Linked DNA regions of Homo sapiens: region 2 is linked to region 1. Evidence: fine-mapped expression QTL. A gene starts in region 1. The other region holds a variant in brackets. All regions are shown on one strand. Distances are between the middles of the regions. Region 1 holds the start of TMEM121 (transmembrane protein 121). Region 2 overlaps TEDC1 (tubulin epsilon and delta complex 1).

Region 1 (8,312 bases):
AGACAGGCAGAATGAAGCTCGCCCCTCACCCACTACCCCCCACTCCAGACCACTCCCTCCCAAGAAGGCCCAGGTCCTCCCACTGGCCCACGCAACTCCCACAGCCCCTCTTCTCTCTCCATGCCAGGCCTGGGGCCTTTCCACGGCTGCTCATCACCGCCCCTCCCCGGCCCCCCAGCCCCCTTGATCCTGCAGACCTTCCACTTCCCAACACGATCATTAGTGGCCTGGGCACAGCCCAGAGCAGGGCGCCTCTGACCTCCTACCCAGGCCAGCGCCCCGTGCCCACCCACGGCGCTCGGCGCTTGGAGGGGCTGCTGGGGATATGATCGGAGGCCGGGGCCAAGGCACGGTTTTAGAGGTGGGCAGAGCGCCGGCCACGTCTGACCTGGACAGCGAGGTAGTCCCCCTGCCCGGGACCCTGAGGACAGTGGTCCCGAGGCCAGCTGCCTGGAAGGCAGGCGACTTTCAAAGGCCAGACCCCAGGTGGCCTGGAGCTGGGGTATGAGGACTGTGTGGGGTCGGGGTGCGGCTGGGGCTGCCACCAGCCACGCCCTTAACTGCTGCAGTTGTTGGGAAATGCACTTGGGGAGGACCCCACTTGAGCAGCCAGCTCCACTCCCCTCGATGGTTTTAGCCCTGGCTGGCTAAACCTTGCCACCTTTGGGCCGTGGAAATGCGGGAAGCGAAGGCCCAGGCAGTGAACTGTGCCACATGAGATGTGTGTGACCATCACCCGCTCATGGAGCGGGCATCCTCAAACAATTCTTTTAGCAGCCTCATAAAGGGCCCCTCCCCAGATGCTACGGACCTTCCCAGGCCAGGTGGATACCCAGGGCCACATCACAGGTACAGGGTCCCAGGTGGAAGGCAGGTGAGAGACCCCTTGCAGATGGGCTTCAGGGCGGGTGCTGCCTGTGCCAGGGGCTGCCAGCTCCCGTGCTGGGGCAAGGCCAGGATGGTAAGGTGGGGCCAGGCTCCGTGCTGCTCCTGGGGCTGCGACCTGGGGCTGCCACATCAACTTGGGAACACCCTGATTCCATCTGGCTGTGGCTGTCCTGGGCTGGAGGAGCCCACAGGGAAGGTAGGTTCCACGGTGGGGGAGAAGGAAACCAGGGATGTGGGAGACACTGTCATGCCTGAGGTTGAGGGGAGCAGGGGCCAGGACACCTACGGTGCTGGGGGAAGATGGGGGTCAAGGTATCCCAGGAAGATAATTGGGAACACCGAAGCTGGAGTGGAGGAGCTGTCCCTGGGACAGAGCGGCAGTGGCCCCCAGGAGCTCCTGAGAGCCCCGGAGGAAGTGGAGCGGCCCAGCCTCACCAGCATCCGGCACTTGGACGCCACCATCTCCCCCGCCCTCCACACACCCCTCCTGGCTCCCCGCCTCCCAGCCTGGCTGGTAAACACAGGGACACAGGAACAGGCAAAGCAGTGCGGCCTTGGATACAAAACTGTAAACACGAGTCTTTAAAATGACAGAGGCCTCCTTGGCCCCAAATCTGAGCCAGAGGCCCCCACCGAAGGAGCAGATCTCCGCCCACACTGCCCTCCCTTCCAACCCGGGCGGCCCAGCAGGCAGGGGCCGGATCACCTCTGCTCTGCTCCGGCCCAGGCCTCCCAAACAGACCCACGCGCTGGGGCGGGCTGGTGGAGCGGGGGCTGAGGATCCGCGGTCCGAGAGATTCCTGAGATGAAGAAGCGGCCGCGGGACCCCAGGCACGGGCACTCGAGGCACCTGTCCCTAGGGGAGCCCGCCCCCACCCCATCCCATGCAAACCGCGCGCCCCAAGCCAACCCGGTGTCTCTGCGCCCCAGGGGCGTGTCGGGGGCCGCGCGGGCCCTGTCACGTGTCCAGGGGGTCACGCGTGGGCGAGGACATGTGGGGGCGCCCAGGCGGGCCGTGCAGCGGCGGCGGCGGCGGCGGCACCGAGTTGCGCTGCGGGGGTGGCGGCTGCAGCTCCAGTGATAGCGCAGGCGGCGGGAAGTCGCGCACCTGGCGGCGGTACTCCAGGAAGGTGCAGGCCTTGGTGGCGAGCGCCACCACGTTTTTGCCGACGAAGATGGCCGAGACACGGCTGTCCCGGAACAGCGCCATGTTGGCGGCGCGCGCCAGCACGGCCACCACATTGACGGTGGCGAGGCTGAGCACCGGGTACAGCATCATCTTCTGCGGCGCTATGTGCTCGCCCTGCATGCTGACCTCGCTGAGCGCCACGCACGGCAGCACCAGCAGCAGCATGTAGCAGTAGAAGAAGGTGAGGCCCTCGGCCCACAGCGGCAGCCCGGAGCGCGGCGGCTCCCACAGGCTGGCCTGCATGTCCAGCAGGTCCAGCAGGTCCAGCGCCACCCAAAACAGGCGGCCGCGCAGGTCCTCGCGCTTGCGGAAGGTGCGCACGTACTCCATGCGGTCCAGCGCCACGAGCAGCAGGAACAGGCCGGGCACACACACAGACAGCAGCAGCGTCAGCGCCTTGCGCGCCACGGGGTCCGCCGCGCCGCGCCGCGCCGCCTTGTAGTTCTGGAAGATGAAGTAGAGCTTGATCTCCAGCACGAAGATGTAAAGGAACCACAGGATCATGGCGTAGCCGCGCTTGGCCGTGCGCACCTCGGCGCCCACCCACACGGCCACGTAGCGCAGCACCAGCAGGAAGCACACGTCGCCCACCAGCACGATGATGCACACGCCGATCTTGCGCGGGCCCTGGTTCTGCTCCACCAGGTACGCGTCCATGACGGCCATGCTGCCCATGATCACCAGCGTGGTCAGGCACACGTGGCGCCGGTCCGGGGGCGGCAGCACCATGGTCGGCCGCCGGGCCCCGGCCTGGGCGCGCGCGGCCCCCACGCCTGGCGGGACGAGGCCCTGCGGCGCTCAGCCAGCGGGCATGGCGCGACACGGCCCGGCGAGCTCGAAACCTGGGGAGACCGGAGGAGACAAGATCAGGGTGCGGGCTGGAGCGGCCTCCCCCAACACCCCCCGCCCCCCGCACCCCGCGTGCTTCCCACCAGGCGCGGTCTCCGCGCCGGGGCCCCGAGGCATCGCGCACGCCTGCGCCCATGCGCGAACCGGCGGCCGCGAACCACAGCGAGGCCTCCAGAGGGCGCTGCTGCCTCGCCAGAGCACCCGGGCCTCGTTCCCGCCGCCAGGAAGGAAACGGAACGGACGCGTTTTCTGCCCGCCGAGCTCGTTCCCGGAGCCCGGGGGGGTTTGTCACTGCTGGGCCCGCGCCGCCCTCCCTCCTGGCTCCGGCGGCCCGGACCCCACGCCCGCGCTGCTGGCCTCAGGCCGTTTCCGCGGAGTTCCGGGAATACCCTCTCCCCGCCGCCGCACTGGGCAGGGAGGCGGGCCTGCCCCTCCGCTCTTGGAGTACCCAAGGAGGCCTCGGCCCTCCCAGGCTTTCTGATCCCGGACCGAGAGCCACCCAGGTCCCGATGCATCCGTCCCACAAGCCTCTCCGAGCCTCCCCGCCCCTGCCCGGCAGCCCCCACGCCCCTCCTCCCTGCACGGGCAGGCTCGGTCTCCCCTCCTGTCCACCATCCTGGGCGCGTGGCCACTGCCTGCCCTGCTCCCCATGGCTCCGCATTGCCTTGGCGAGGTGTTGTCCCCCACCCTCTGCCCCGGCAGAGCCACCCTGCTTTGCTCCTCTGCGCCAGGGCGATGCCTGTGGCTGCCCTCGAATCTCGGGAAGCCCGTCCACCAAGGCCCGTCGGGCTTCCACAGGCCCCTGCACCTCTGTCACACACCTGGCACTGGTCCTCATGGCCGTGCTGTCGGAGTCCCCGCACCTGGGCCTGTGCACACCTGGGTGACAATGGAGGCCCGCACACCCGCACCCACCCCAAAGTCACTGACAGGCTTACTCCCAGCCAGCCCCTCACCCCCTCCACAGCCCCAGGCCTGGGGCTCCGTTTACTGCCGTGTCTAGACAAAGGCATAAAATTTAATGTCCCCGTGACAGTCGGGCGCTCGGACTGCCCTGGTGACACCGCAGGCCCCACCGATCCGGGAAAGCGTTGAACTCTGCACTCCCACCCCTGCCCCCACCCAGCACCCGCCGCCCAGGATCCCCACAGCCACACACAGGACACCCCCACCCCTCGGAGCTCTGACAGGTCGCGAGGAGGGTGCCTTGAGGGTCCTCAGCCCATGCCCCTGCCTCCAAGCCTCCCCGCGCTCTGGGTCCCACCGGGACACTCACCCGGTTTTCACGTCCACTGGATCTACACGTCTGACCCAGGAAGCCCTCTCTGGGCCCATTCCAGGCCCACCTGGGCCTCCCCTAGCTGCAGCCGCAGCCTGAGAATTTCCTCCCTCTCCGCGCGTGGCGGGGCCAAATAAATAGCGGGGGAGCCACGGCGCCGCTCACCCTTTCCGGCCGTGCCTCCAGCCCCTCCGCCCCACTACGCTGTCGCTCGATCCTCAGTCACTTGGCAGATGCGGGCCGAGGGGCTCTGCGCTGGCGAAGGGACGGACTCCAGCCCCTAGCGGAGCCCCTACCCCGGCAAGCCAGAGCCCGGCCCGGCCACCTCTCCGTAGGGACCTGGCCCCAGGCCCACCTGTCCTGGGTCTCCTGGGCCCCGGCCGAGGCCCCTCCTCCCCCCACGCCCCGCGGCTCAGACCTGGCACAGACTCTGGGGCCTCCAGGCCCTTCACTGCCCGGGCCCCGCAAGGACCCTCGCCCCATAACCACCCCTCGGAGCCCCCGGGAGGAGGGGCGGGAGGGGGCTGCTGTGCTCCCGCCGCGGGCCGGTGCAGAGCTTGGGCCGCTCCCAGCAGGCTGCGTCTCTGCTTGTCCCCCCGAGGCTTCCCCACGCAGGGCCGGGTCCCCGTCACCCCGCCGGCCCCAGGCCTCACCCCTGCCGCATCGGCCCCCGCCCCACCCCACAGTCCCCACGGCCCAGAGGTGCAGGGTCGCCCAGGCCCGCCGCCCCCTCCGCGGACGCAGCCGCGCACCCAGCCAGTCCCGCCCGCGCCCGCGCCTACCCCGCCGCCCGCAGATGCTGCGCCGCTCCCGGGCCCGCCCGCCCAGCCTCTGCCGCCACTGCCGGGGCCGCGCCGGCTCCTCCCGCCGCGCCCCTCCCCCGCCCGCGCGGCACCGCCCCCGACCCAGAGGCCCCGCCCCGCGCCCCTCGGCCCGCGAGCCCCGCCGGACCTGGGGACCTGGGAGCGCGGGGGTGCCGGTGCCCCGCCCCCTCCGCAGCGCCGGTTGCCACGGCGACAGCACCGCGCGGCGGCGCGCAGGACTGGTGGCTCTGGGGAGCGGGGCGCCCTCGCGCACCCCCAGGCGCGGAGTCCCGTCTCCACCCTCCTCACCCACCGCCCAGAATCCCAGGGTCCCGCCCAGTGCCCCCCGCGCCCTGAAACTCCGCTGCCGCCCCCTAGAGCGACCCCACTCAGCCGGACAGGCGCCCACCGGCCCAGGAGCTGACAGGGATGTAGGCGCGGGGCTGGCCTGGCCGCCGGGGCCCTCCGCGCCACCCTCTGTCCTCTTTGGGGAGAAACCCAGCCTTCCCAGGTTTCTTCTCAGGGCAGAGGAAAGGAATGATGAGCGGCCCCCACCTTCTTCTCCAGCCCGTCCAGGAGGCAAGCTAGGGTTTGGGGACTTGGGCTTCATTTTGTCACTGAGGTGGCACTAAGCCCCTCCCCCCACATCCTGTCCATCCCGTGTGAGCCAGAGAAGAACCCGAGGGCACCTTCTGCCTGCCTGCCCTCCTTCCCAGAACTGCTGTGACTTCCCTCTGACATAGGAGGAGACTGAGGGTCAGAGAGGTAAAGGGACACCAGATTTGGTGGAAAGACCAGAATTTGAGGCACCACCCAACTGGTAGTGAACTTCCAGATTCTCTTCCCGTATCCCCGGGCCTGGACTCAACACGGCCTGAAAGCCAGAAGAGGACAGAGAGCTCCAGAAGTTCTCTAGTCCTGGCACAAGGGGAGGAAAGAAAAAGGTCGCCTAATGCTCCCAGGGTGCAGGAGAATGCCCGGGGGGATGTTAGGGTTTGGGAGGATGGGGTTTTTTGGTAGTGGTTGTTTTTTTACTCTTCTCCATTCTCTGATGCCCCAGCCCCTAGGTATCCCACCAAAGCCATGACCAAGGCATAGGGTTTACAAGCACCTAAAACGCTGAGGCAGAAGAGCCTTCCTTTCCAGCCCCAGGAGATGTGGTCCCCTGTCGCTGGAGAGATGGTGGGCAGGGAGAAGCAGTAGAAAGCAATCCATGGGCTGGGCGTGGTGGCTCACACCTGTAATTCCAGCACTTTGGGAGGCCGATGTGGGCGGATTACCTGAGGTCGGGAGTTCGAGACCAGCCTGGCCAACATGGTGAAACCCCCATCTCTACTAAAAATATAAAAATTAGCCGGGCGTGGTGGCACACACCTGTAATCCCAGCTACTCGGGAGGCTGAAGCAGGAGAATTGCTTGAGTCCGGGAGATGGAGGTTGCAGTGAGCCGAGATCTTGCCACTGCACTCCAGCCTGGGCAACAGAGTGAGACTCTGTCTCAAAAAAAAAAAAAAAAAAAAAGCAACCCCAGGAAGTTGTGCAAGCCATACATGATGTACAAGTCTAAACCCTCATTCACATCCCAAAGGCTGAGAACTGAACAAAAGGACAGCCCACTGCCCACGTCCCACACTGGCCACTGGGCAGTGCATACGAAGGACAGATCTGAGTCCCACTGCAAAGGCTTTGAAAACAAAACCGACATGGAAGGCAGGACCCACAGGAGCCTATTTGAACTTGTGGCCTGAAACCAACTAGGTTGATTGCATGATAAAACAAAATGCCAACATTCTCAATGGGATTTAAATAAGACCAGTCTCATAACATAATGTCTAAATGTGCAGGAGACAATCTAAAATTACTCTGCATGTGAAGAATCAGGAAATCCAACCTGCAAGAGAAAAGACAATCAACAGCCGCCAATGCCAACATGACACAAAAACCCTCAACTAATTATCAGCAAATAGAATCAAGCAGCATTAAAAACACACACACACAAATACCCCAACCAAATGGAGGCTATCCCAGAAAGGCAAGGCTGGTTCAACATGTGAAAATAAATCGATGTGATCCACCATATTAGTCTCAAGAAGAAAACCATGTGATCATCTCAATCAATTCAAAGAAAGTATTTGACGGAATTCAACACTCATCCCTGATAAACACTCTCAGCAAACTAGAAAGCAAAGGGAACATGCTTAATCTCATAAAAGGAATCTACAAAAAGCAACAACAAAAACAACAGGCCAGGCATGGTGGCTCACCCCTGCAATCTCAACATTTTGGGAGGCCAGGAGTTCAAGACCAGCCCGGGCAACATGGAGAGATTCCATATCTGTTATTTTTAATTAAAAAAAAAATTAGGCCAGGCACTGTGGCTCATGCCTCTAATACCAGCATTTTGGGAGGCCAAAGTGGGCGGATTGCTTGAGCTTGAGTTCAAGACCAGCCTGGGAAACATGGTGAAACCCTGTCTCTACAAAAAATACAAAACAATCTGGCCGGATGTGGTGGCTCACGCCTGTAATCCCAGCACTTTGGGAGGCCAAGGCAGGCAGATCACCTGAGCTCAGGAGTTCTATGCCAGCCTGGGCAACATGGCGAAACACCATCTCTACTTAAAACACACACACACACACACACACATTAGCAGGGTACAGTGACACACACCTGTAATCCCAGCTACTCAGGAGGCTGAGGCATGAGAATCGCTTGAACTTGGGAGGCAGAGGTTGCAGTGAACTAAGATCGCACCACTGCACTCCAGTGTGGGCAACAGAGGAAGACCCTGTCCAAAAAAGAAAAAAAAAAAAAAAAAAAACCTCTGCATCTAATGTGATACTTAATAATGAAGGACTAAATGCTGAGCCCTAAGATCAGGAACAAGGTAAAGATGTCCACTCTATTCACTCCTGTTCCACAGTGTACTGGCAGTCCTAACCCATGCAATAAAACCAGAAAAATAAAAGGCATACAGATTAGAAAGGAAGAAATAAAGATGTCCCTATCCATAAATAACATAAAAGTCTATGTCGAAAATCCCAAGAATTTTACCAACAAAAAAGTCAGAATACTAATAAGTGAGTTTTGCAAGGTTGCAGGATGAAAACACAGAACTCAGTCCTGTTTCTATATATTAGCAATGAACAATTGAAAACCAAAATTTTTAAAAGCAATGCTATTTAAAATGGTCCCCCAGTAAATTTATTCGTTTGGTATTAATCTAACAAGACTGGTACAGGATTTGTATACTGAAAACTACCAAATGCTGATAAAAGAAATCAAAGAAGGCCTAAATATGTGAG
Region 2 (8,312 bases), 27 kb after region 1:
CCCCCCCCTCCAGCCTGGCGGTCCCCTCCGATACCCCAACCGGCCCAGCGCCCCCACCAGCCCAGGGCTCTGCCCGCCCAACATCCCCCACCAGCCCGGCACCCCCGCCAGCTGGGTGTCCTCTCCAGCCTGGCGCCCCCACCAGCCCGGCGCCCCCTCCAGCCCAGTGCCTCCCCAAGCCCGGTGCCTCCCACCAGCGTGACAAGCCATGGGTCCCCCACTTCAAGGCCCACATTTTTTTATTAGCTGAGGTCGTGGTAGCTGTTGTACCACCTCACTAAGCGCGTCTTTTTCTGTAGTTTTGATGCTGACGTCTTGCCCATTCCTGTGCCCCGACCACCCAGCTGCGTGGAGCAGCCCCCACTCTCTGTGGATAAAAGAACTTTCTTCCTACAAGACGGTCATTCCTGCGTCTGTGTGTTACCCTCCCTGATTACAACAAATCCTAGGCTCATTTTAAAAAGATACAGGCCCCACATTTAGGAGGCTGCAGCCCAAACCTCTGCAGCCAGCATCCTATGTCTTCGCTGCAGTTTATGGCAAGACCCTGGAGACCTGGTGAGAGCACAGCCCTGGTGTCCTCCTCCGTGGCCCCCCTCATCCCCCTCTGTCAGGTGTGTAGCCCCCACTCCAAGCGTGATCTTCAGCCCCCGGCCCTGTCCCTCAGCAGCACAGGTGATAAGCCCCTCCGTCCGGAAGCACTGTCTTTACTTGGCCACCAAGACCCCCAACTTGACCGCACCCCCACTTGCCAGCCATCCCCTCTGCCCTGCCTGTGCTTCCTACCACTGTGCAGGCCCAGGCTCAGGCCTCAGACCCAGGCCCCTCACCAGCCCCAGGCCCCTCACCAGCCCCGGGCCCCTCACCAGCCCCGGGCCCACCGCACCCTGGGGCCCTGCCCTGCCCTGCCCTGCCTCCCACCCCGGCTGAGCCCACCCACACCCTGCATTCTCACATTCCATTCTCCAGCCCCAAATTCCAGGTTCACGCAGCCAACTGCCCACCTGACACCCACTAAGATGCCAAGATTGTGAGCAGGTCAGAGCCGGGCTACCAAGCAGCAGTGCCCACCCCAGCCTGCCCAGTTCTCAAACCACCATGGGCCCAGCCACCACAGCTCCCTACATCACACCCGCAACCAAGACAGCGGCCAATCCTGTGCCCCAGTGGGCCAGAACCCACCTAGTCCAGCTGTCCTCCAAACCCACCTCCTCTGAGCCACAGAACCTCCCCACCAGCGGATGGGGGCAGAAGCCTGGGCCCTGCCTACTCTCAGCTTGTGCCCCCCTTGGGGCTGAGCCCCGGCGGGCACCCATGTCCTCCAGCTGTGAGCACTTTCCTCTATGGTGTTTGCTCTTCCCTCTGGGACATGGCCATGGGGCCCCTCAGAATGGCACATATTGGGCACCACGTGACTTCAGGTAGAATGACTGAGGGACCAGCCCAGCACAGCCAGGCAGGGCAGCGAGAGGCCGGGCAGGACACCCTCCGACCACTCTGAGGACAGGGATGGCTGCAGAGCCAATGCAGGCTCACACGCAGGGACAGACAGCTGGAGGCTGAGCCCAGGCGCAGGACTTCAGAGCCACCAGCCACAACCACACCCAAGGCCATGGGGTAGACAAGGGCAGTGTGGACTGAGCGGTCAGGGTCCCCATGAGATAAACAGGAACCACTCAGAAACACTTCTCTCCTGCCAGGAGCGGTGGCCTACGCCTGTAATCCCGGCACTTTGGGAGGTAGAGGCAGGCAGATCACTTGAGCCCAGGAGTTTGGGACCAGCCTGGGCGGCATGGTGAAACCCTGCGTCTACTAAAAATGAAAATACAAAAATTAGCTGGGCATGGTGGCACGCGCCTGTAGTCTCAGCCACTCAGGAGGCTGAGATGGGAGGATTAGTTGATCCCGGAAGATCGAGGCTGCAGTCCCAGCCACTCAGGAGGCTGAGGTGGGAGGATGACTTGATCCCGGAAGATCAAGGCTGCAGTCCCAGCCACTCAGGAGGCTGAGGTGGGAGGATGACTTGATCCTGGAAGATGGAGGCTGCAGTGAGCTGACTGTGCCACTGAGTGACAGAGCAACATCTTGTCTCAAAAAAAAAAAAAAAAAAAAGAGAAACCCTCCTGTCCAACCAAGGCGGGACTTCAGAGGCCGTAGGACACATTCCCTGGGCTCCAGGGGGAGGTGCGACCACCACAGGCCCCAGAGGTTGTGATCCTGACCTGGCCGGAGTCCCAACCAGCCTCATCCCTCAAGGCAGGGTCAGCCAGGACCAGGTGAAGGAGCCCTGAAGTAGTGCAGAAAGGGAAGCAGAGGCCAGGAAGGCTGAGCCAGCCGGAACAGAATAGGCAAGCGTATGAGACACTGCACTTCCATCTCATTAATCGTTTTTTCTTTTTCATATAGGGTCTCACTCTGTTGCCCAGGCTGGAGTGCAGTAACAAGATCATAGCTCACTTGGCCTCATAGCCTTGGTCTCCAGGCTCAAGCGATCCTCCTGTCTCGGCCTCCCTTCTATGTAGCTGGGACTACAGGCACATGCCACTACACCCAGCTGCTTTTTTTATTTTTTGTAGTGGTGGGGCCTCCCTATGTTGCCCAGGCTGGTCTTGATCTCCCAGGCTCATGCAATCCTCCCATCCAGGCCTCCCAAAGCGCTGGGATTACAGGCATGAGCCACTGCATCCAGCTGCACCACCTCTTAATAAACATTAGTTTTGGCCGGGCACAGTGGTTCATGCCTGTAATCCCAGCACTTTGGGAGGCCGAGGCGGGTGGATCACCTGAGGTCAGGAGTTCAAGACCAGCCTGACCAATACGATGAAACCCCATCTCTACTAAAAATACAAAAATTGGCCGGGCATGGTGGCGCACTGCTGTAATCCCAGCTACTCAGAAGGCTGAGGCAGGAGAATCGCTTGAACCCGGGAGGCGGAGGTTGCAGTGAGCCGAAACTGCGCCACTGTACTCCAGCCTGGGTGACAAGAGCAAGACTCTGTCTTAAAAAAAAAAAAATTTCTAGTTTTGTTGAAGTTTATTGCACCTTCCAGTAAGCGCACTTGGTCTCACGCGCCAGGTGACCTCTGCTGTTTCCTGTGAGGCCATCTTCGCCTCTGTCTTCCTGGGAAGCAAACTGCACTGTCCTTACACAGATGCTGGCTCGTCCAGGGTGCAGGGCCCTACTGCCCCAGCCAGGCCGACACCGTGGGCCTCCAGGCTGTTCCGTGGGTCTGGGGCAGGTCGCAAGACAGAAGGGAAAAGCTGCAGCTGGCCTTAAGACAGGAAGTCTATGGGGACAGAGGGGATGGGGGTCTTGAGGATGACTCGGGCTCCTGAAGGCAGGGGAGGGAGGCAGGAGAGTGTCAGAGAGGCAGTGTTGTGAGGACCTCCATGCCTGCTCTGAGCTGGGGGCCACACAGCCCTGCCTGCCCATCCAGCTTTAACCCTGTGGACTGGCAACCCCCGACCCACAGAACAAGAGGGCGTGACTTCAGGCGACTCGAGCCACTGCATGTGTGATAACAACTAGAGCTGAAGGCCAGGGTCCCATCCCTGCTCCATCATGACGGGCAGCACTAGGGCACCCTGCCGGCTTCCCTCCCGCAGGCCCTGGCCTCTCAGGCCCTCTCCACCGCCAGCATCATGGGGGCACACGCGCACCCAGGACTTGGACTGCCCTGAATTCACGCATCACATCGAGAGGTGACAACTCCATGACAATAAGCCTGCTTTTGTGCTCGTAAAAATCAAGTCCCCCAGGCCCGTGAGAGTCCTGGTTCTGTGGCAGTTTATAAAAAGCAGGGCTTCAAGTGGACTTGCTCCCAGCCCAAGAAGAGCCCTGTCCGGCAGTCGAGGGTTGCTGAGAGCACGGGGGACTTTCAGAGGCTGCAGGTGGAGGAGGGTTGAGGTCTGAGGGCCTGGAACAGAGCTGGAACCAGCAGGTGGAGGTGGCAGGAGCCCTTAGGAGGAGCTGGCGGAGGGGCCGGAGGGTGGCGCAGGCCAGGGAGCATTTGCACAAATCCTGGTGGCCCACAGGAGGCCCAGCTGCATGAGAGGGTCAGAGAGGTGCTCCTGAAAGGGAGGCCTTGCTGGCCACGGCCAGGTCTTGCCGGTGCTCCTGGGTCCCATGCACCGGAATGGGAAGGCAGGCGGTCTAGGCGTGTCCACCCCTGGGACCAAGGAGGCCCAGACAGGCTGAGACTGGAGCTGGAGCCCCAGGTGTGTGCTGTCACTCAGGCACATGCCCCAGTGAGAGCATGTTCTGGCAGGGGGAATGGACGTGGCCTCGGGGCAGGGCCGGCAGGAGCCTGGAGGTGGCCCCACAAGCCCCATCGTCTGCCCACCTCAGGTCAGAGTCCGACAGCCCCAGAAGAGAGGGGAGCCCGGCAAGGCAGGCAGGGCTGGAGGCCTCAGGGCCACCTGTGTCTGCTGGTGGGGGGCGGGGGGGGTGCCATGAGGCCGACCCTCCTTCCGCCAGGCTGAGGCACGTCCCCCGGACACAGATGGCTCTTTGTCAGGGATGAGCTGAGCTTGCTGAGCAGCCTCTGGAACAAAGCCCCTCTGTCCATGCTGTGCCTCCCCACCCGGAGCACCACCTCCCGGGAAGGAGCAGAGCCCCGGGCTCCCATCCGGCGCACCCACCAGGCACAGCC[T/A]TGGCCGGAGGTGGGGGCAGCTGTGCTCACAGCCCAGGGCCAGGCCCACAGCGGGAGCCCAAATGAAGGGGGGCGGGGCCGAGATAATCCCGCTCCAGGGAGGCCTGTGCCACCTCCCCGTGGTCCTGCCACTCACCAGTGCTGGGGTATGCATGTCCTCCAGCACCTGGCCAGCCCTACACTGGCCACCACTGCCCAGGGGCTCCTCCACGCTCCCACCCCCAAACAGGGAAACCCGACAGGGTGGCAGGGGGAGGGCCAGCGGCAGGAAAGCTGCTACAATTTATTTCCGAGTCCCCTCCAGACCACCAGGCTGAGCCTGTCACGACCTCCTCAAGGGACCAGCCATTCCTGTCCCCAGTGCTGCTAGCCACAGGCCTGGGATCCGGCCAGAGTCAGCCCAGCCCCACCCCTGGAGCGAGCATGTGACGTGGGCTCTGCATCTGCATCGTCCCTGCGGCCACCTGGCCTTGGAATCTGCTCCTCCAAGACCCAGCCAGGCTGGGCCAGGGCAGGCTTCCCACACGAGGGCCCGTCGACAGGCCCTCAGCGTCCAGGTGGCGGGATCCAGATGAGACCAGGGCGGGCTCCCACCAGCCTGGCCAGTTCCTGCCGACACTGTCCCTGTAGTCGACGTAGCACCGCCTCCAGGCAGGCCTCCTGGCTCCTCAGCGTCCTGATCACCACAGCTGCCCGCAGGTCCCGGTCCCCTGCTGCCCCATCCTCTCGTCTCACCAGCCGGTGTGGCCCATGGGGCTGGGCCGGGCCACCGTCTCGCTCCCAGCACTGCTGTAGAGCTCCCAGCTCCTTTTCCACAGCCTCCCGAGAGGCCCGCCGCGCGGCACTCCACTCTGGCCCCCGTCCACAGCCTCCAGCCTGCGTGGGACACAATGGCAATGGCTCTGTCCCCCCAGGACACTGGCCTCAGGCTCCCTGAGCATTCCCTGAGCCCAGACTCAGGTGCAGGCGCTGCAGGCATGCGGGAAACGCCCATGCTCTTCAGAGAGGCTTACTGAAAATTTTAAGGGGAAAATCATGCCTGCAATTTAAGTTAAAACTCTTCAGAAAAAGAAAATAGATGGAGCCAACACAGCCCCGTGTTCACAGCCATGAACCTGCGCAGGTTAAGCGGGCAGCTCTGAGTCTAGGGTGGAGGCCCAGGTGGCCACCAGGAGGTTAGACGGGTCCCAGGCAGGTGTGGAGGAGTGACTACTACCGTGTGATGCATGTGTGGCGGACGCATGGGAGCAGCAGGGCCCACACAGCACGGGCTTCCCTCCCTCATGCAAAGAATCAGACAACAGACCTCCCGCAGGAGGGGCGGGGGCTGTCTCGCAGCAGCTGCGGCTCCTCACCAGGTGCCCTCCCGCTCCCTCAGGGTACGTGCCTCTAAGTGTGTCCCCTGCCATGCTTGACAAATGCAACTGTAGGATTCAGCAAGTCCAAAGTGCCCTCAGGTCAGCCATCCCCCGAAGGTGGGGCTGGGCTGGTGCCCAGAGCGAGGCTGGCACTCACCTTGGCCTCCCAGGCCGCCCGCCTGCGCTCCGCAGCCTCCCGCAGCTCCTCCTCCAGTGCCTGCAGCTCCCGCACTACCAGGTCCAACTCGCCACCCCCGCGCTCGGGGACCCAGGGCAGGAAGGTGGGCTGTGAGGCTGCAGCAGGCACCTCCGGGGCACAGGTGCCCAGGACCGTGTCCTACAGAGACCCAAGTGAGACAGCGTGCACCAAGCCAAGGGGACAGAGGGACAGAGGGCAAAGAGGGCAGTGGTAGTCCCCCAGGTCCCACAGCGGGCTGGATGCCACCATCTCAGCAACTGTGACGTCCAGGGAGGCACAAAGGCCACACTCTAGAAGGCCATGGAGCTGAGGGCGGGGGCAGCAGTGAGCCTCCCCAGAAGGCGAGTGGAAGTCCTAGAAAGAGCCTACACTAGGTCTGTGGCCTCCCTAAAAGCCCCTCTTCCTGTCTGGAAAACAGGAAGATCCCGAATGCCCCACCTGGGGGCTGCTGTGGGAAGGGATGCCGGGAGAGGGATGCGCGGGCTTCCTCACCATCCACCGCCAGAAGACCAGCTCAGAGCGCCGCCACGCCAGGACAGCCTCCAGGCGCTGGTTCTCACGCTCCAGAGTCCGCAGCAGCTGGAAGGCAAACGGCAGCTGGCCTAGAACCTCACACGGGACCCCATGGACAGACAGTCGGATGGACAGCTGGACCCAGCGCCGACACCCGGCCCAACGCCTAGCTCACGCCCCGCCCCTGCAGCCCTCCCCTGCCTGCGCCCAGGTTCTCTGGCCAGAGCGATGAGCAGGGCACCCTGGTGTGGTGCGGACGCCACAGCCCACCTGTCCTTTCTGCAGTGCAGGGCAGCCCCCAACCAGTGCACGGCCAGGCCCTGCCTGCCAGGCAAGAGCTGCCCCCCGGCTCTGAGGACATCCGCTGTCCCCCACACCAGCCCCACTGCCAGTCCAACAAGGTCAGGGACAGGTCCAGGTGCCTCTCAAGCCTAGACCTCTGCCCCACAGCCCTCACTGAATGCGGGCTGTATCCGGGGACTGCAGGCGGACGGGGAGGCCCCAAACGAAGGAGCAAGCCAGGCTCTGGGGGAGGGAAAACCCATCCCCTGTAACTTCAGGGACCCCCTAAGGCAGTGAGGAGTCTGCCTAGTGACCCAGGTGGCAGAGAAGGCAGAGCTGAGCCACACTTGACATTCCCAAGTGAAGGGTCAGGCAGGGCCAGGAGACCCCGCCCTGCCTGCCCCATGGCCCTGCACAAAGGTACCTGCCCACAGTGCCCACAGACAGGCGGCTGGAGAATGGCCAGGACACAGCAGCTGCTCTGCCCACACACGGAAGGCCTCCCAGGTTCGCTCATGGGCTATCTGTACCAGTGACCCTGGGCCCGGGGCAAGGGGACCCCTGCTGGGGACAGGCCCTCTACACCTGAATCCTGCCCCACTCTACCCCTGCTTCCCCCGGGAACCCAGAGTGTGGAGCAGGCTGCAGGGGCCTGGGGCTCCAGCAGTGGGCTGGGGGGCAGATAGGAATGGCCTTGAACACCAGGTCCAACCCAGCCCCTCTGGGGCGGAGCAGAGCAGAGGCAGGCAGGCCTGCGGTCAGAGAATATGAGGACAGGGAGGTCTGTGGGCGGTGTGGGAGCTGGAGCAGGCTGGTGCCGGGGCTGCAGCCCACCTGCCCACCCCAGCACGCCACAAGAAGAGCAAAGGCCTCCACCATGGGTACGGCCGCTTCAACACACCTGACAGAAGGCAATCACCACAGTTCCCAAGAAGGTAAGGGCCAGGGGTGGGAGCAGGCAGGAGAGGAGGAGCAAACACACCCCCTCGCCACCCCCTCCCACCCACCCCCAAGTCCTGCGGTCTCCACTTCCCTGCCAGCCTCCCCGACTTACCGCCCTAAAAGGGGAGAGCAGGCTGCAGGCTGAGGCCCCACCAGGATCCAAGGGTGCTGCCCAGTCACCCGGCAGCAGACCTGGCTGCTCACATACCAGCCACAGATCATTCCAGAAGGTTCTGGGACCCATCCCAGGAGTGCAGAAGGAGTGCAGGCACTTTGGGTAGGCCAGGTCCAGGTTTTGGGCAGCTCCCGCTCCAGAAACCTTGGAAGGAAGCCAGCCATGGCCCCAGTCCACCTGGCCAGTGCCGC

What was found. PIP is the estimated chance that this variant, and not a neighbour inherited with it, causes the effect.
Region 2: its variant is fine-mapped to the expression of TMEM121 in spinal cord (GTEx, PIP 0.94).

What each region holds. Positions count from the first base shown.
Region 1 is chr14:105,523,329-105,531,640 of GRCh38, reverse strand. It overlaps TMEM121 (transmembrane protein 121), which reads right to left and starts at 5,058. Exons shown (of 2, transcript NM_025268.4): 1 at 4,988-5,058; 2 at 1,443-2,919. The coding sequence starts at 2,806. The coding sequence ends at 1,847. RefSeq lists a silencer at 3,191-3,400.
Region 2 is chr14:105,495,833-105,504,144 of GRCh38, reverse strand. TEDC1 (tubulin epsilon and delta complex 1) reads right to left here. Exons shown (of 9, transcript NM_001367178.1): 6 at 8,059-8,265; 7 at 6,702-6,788; 8 at 6,168-6,347; 9 at 4,897-5,528. The coding sequence ends at 5,199. Among named protein-coding and RNA genes, the nearest start is that of TEDC1, 8.7 kb to the right of the region's middle. RefSeq lists a silencer at 5,039-5,333. The variant T/A (reference allele first, on the strand shown) is at 4,653.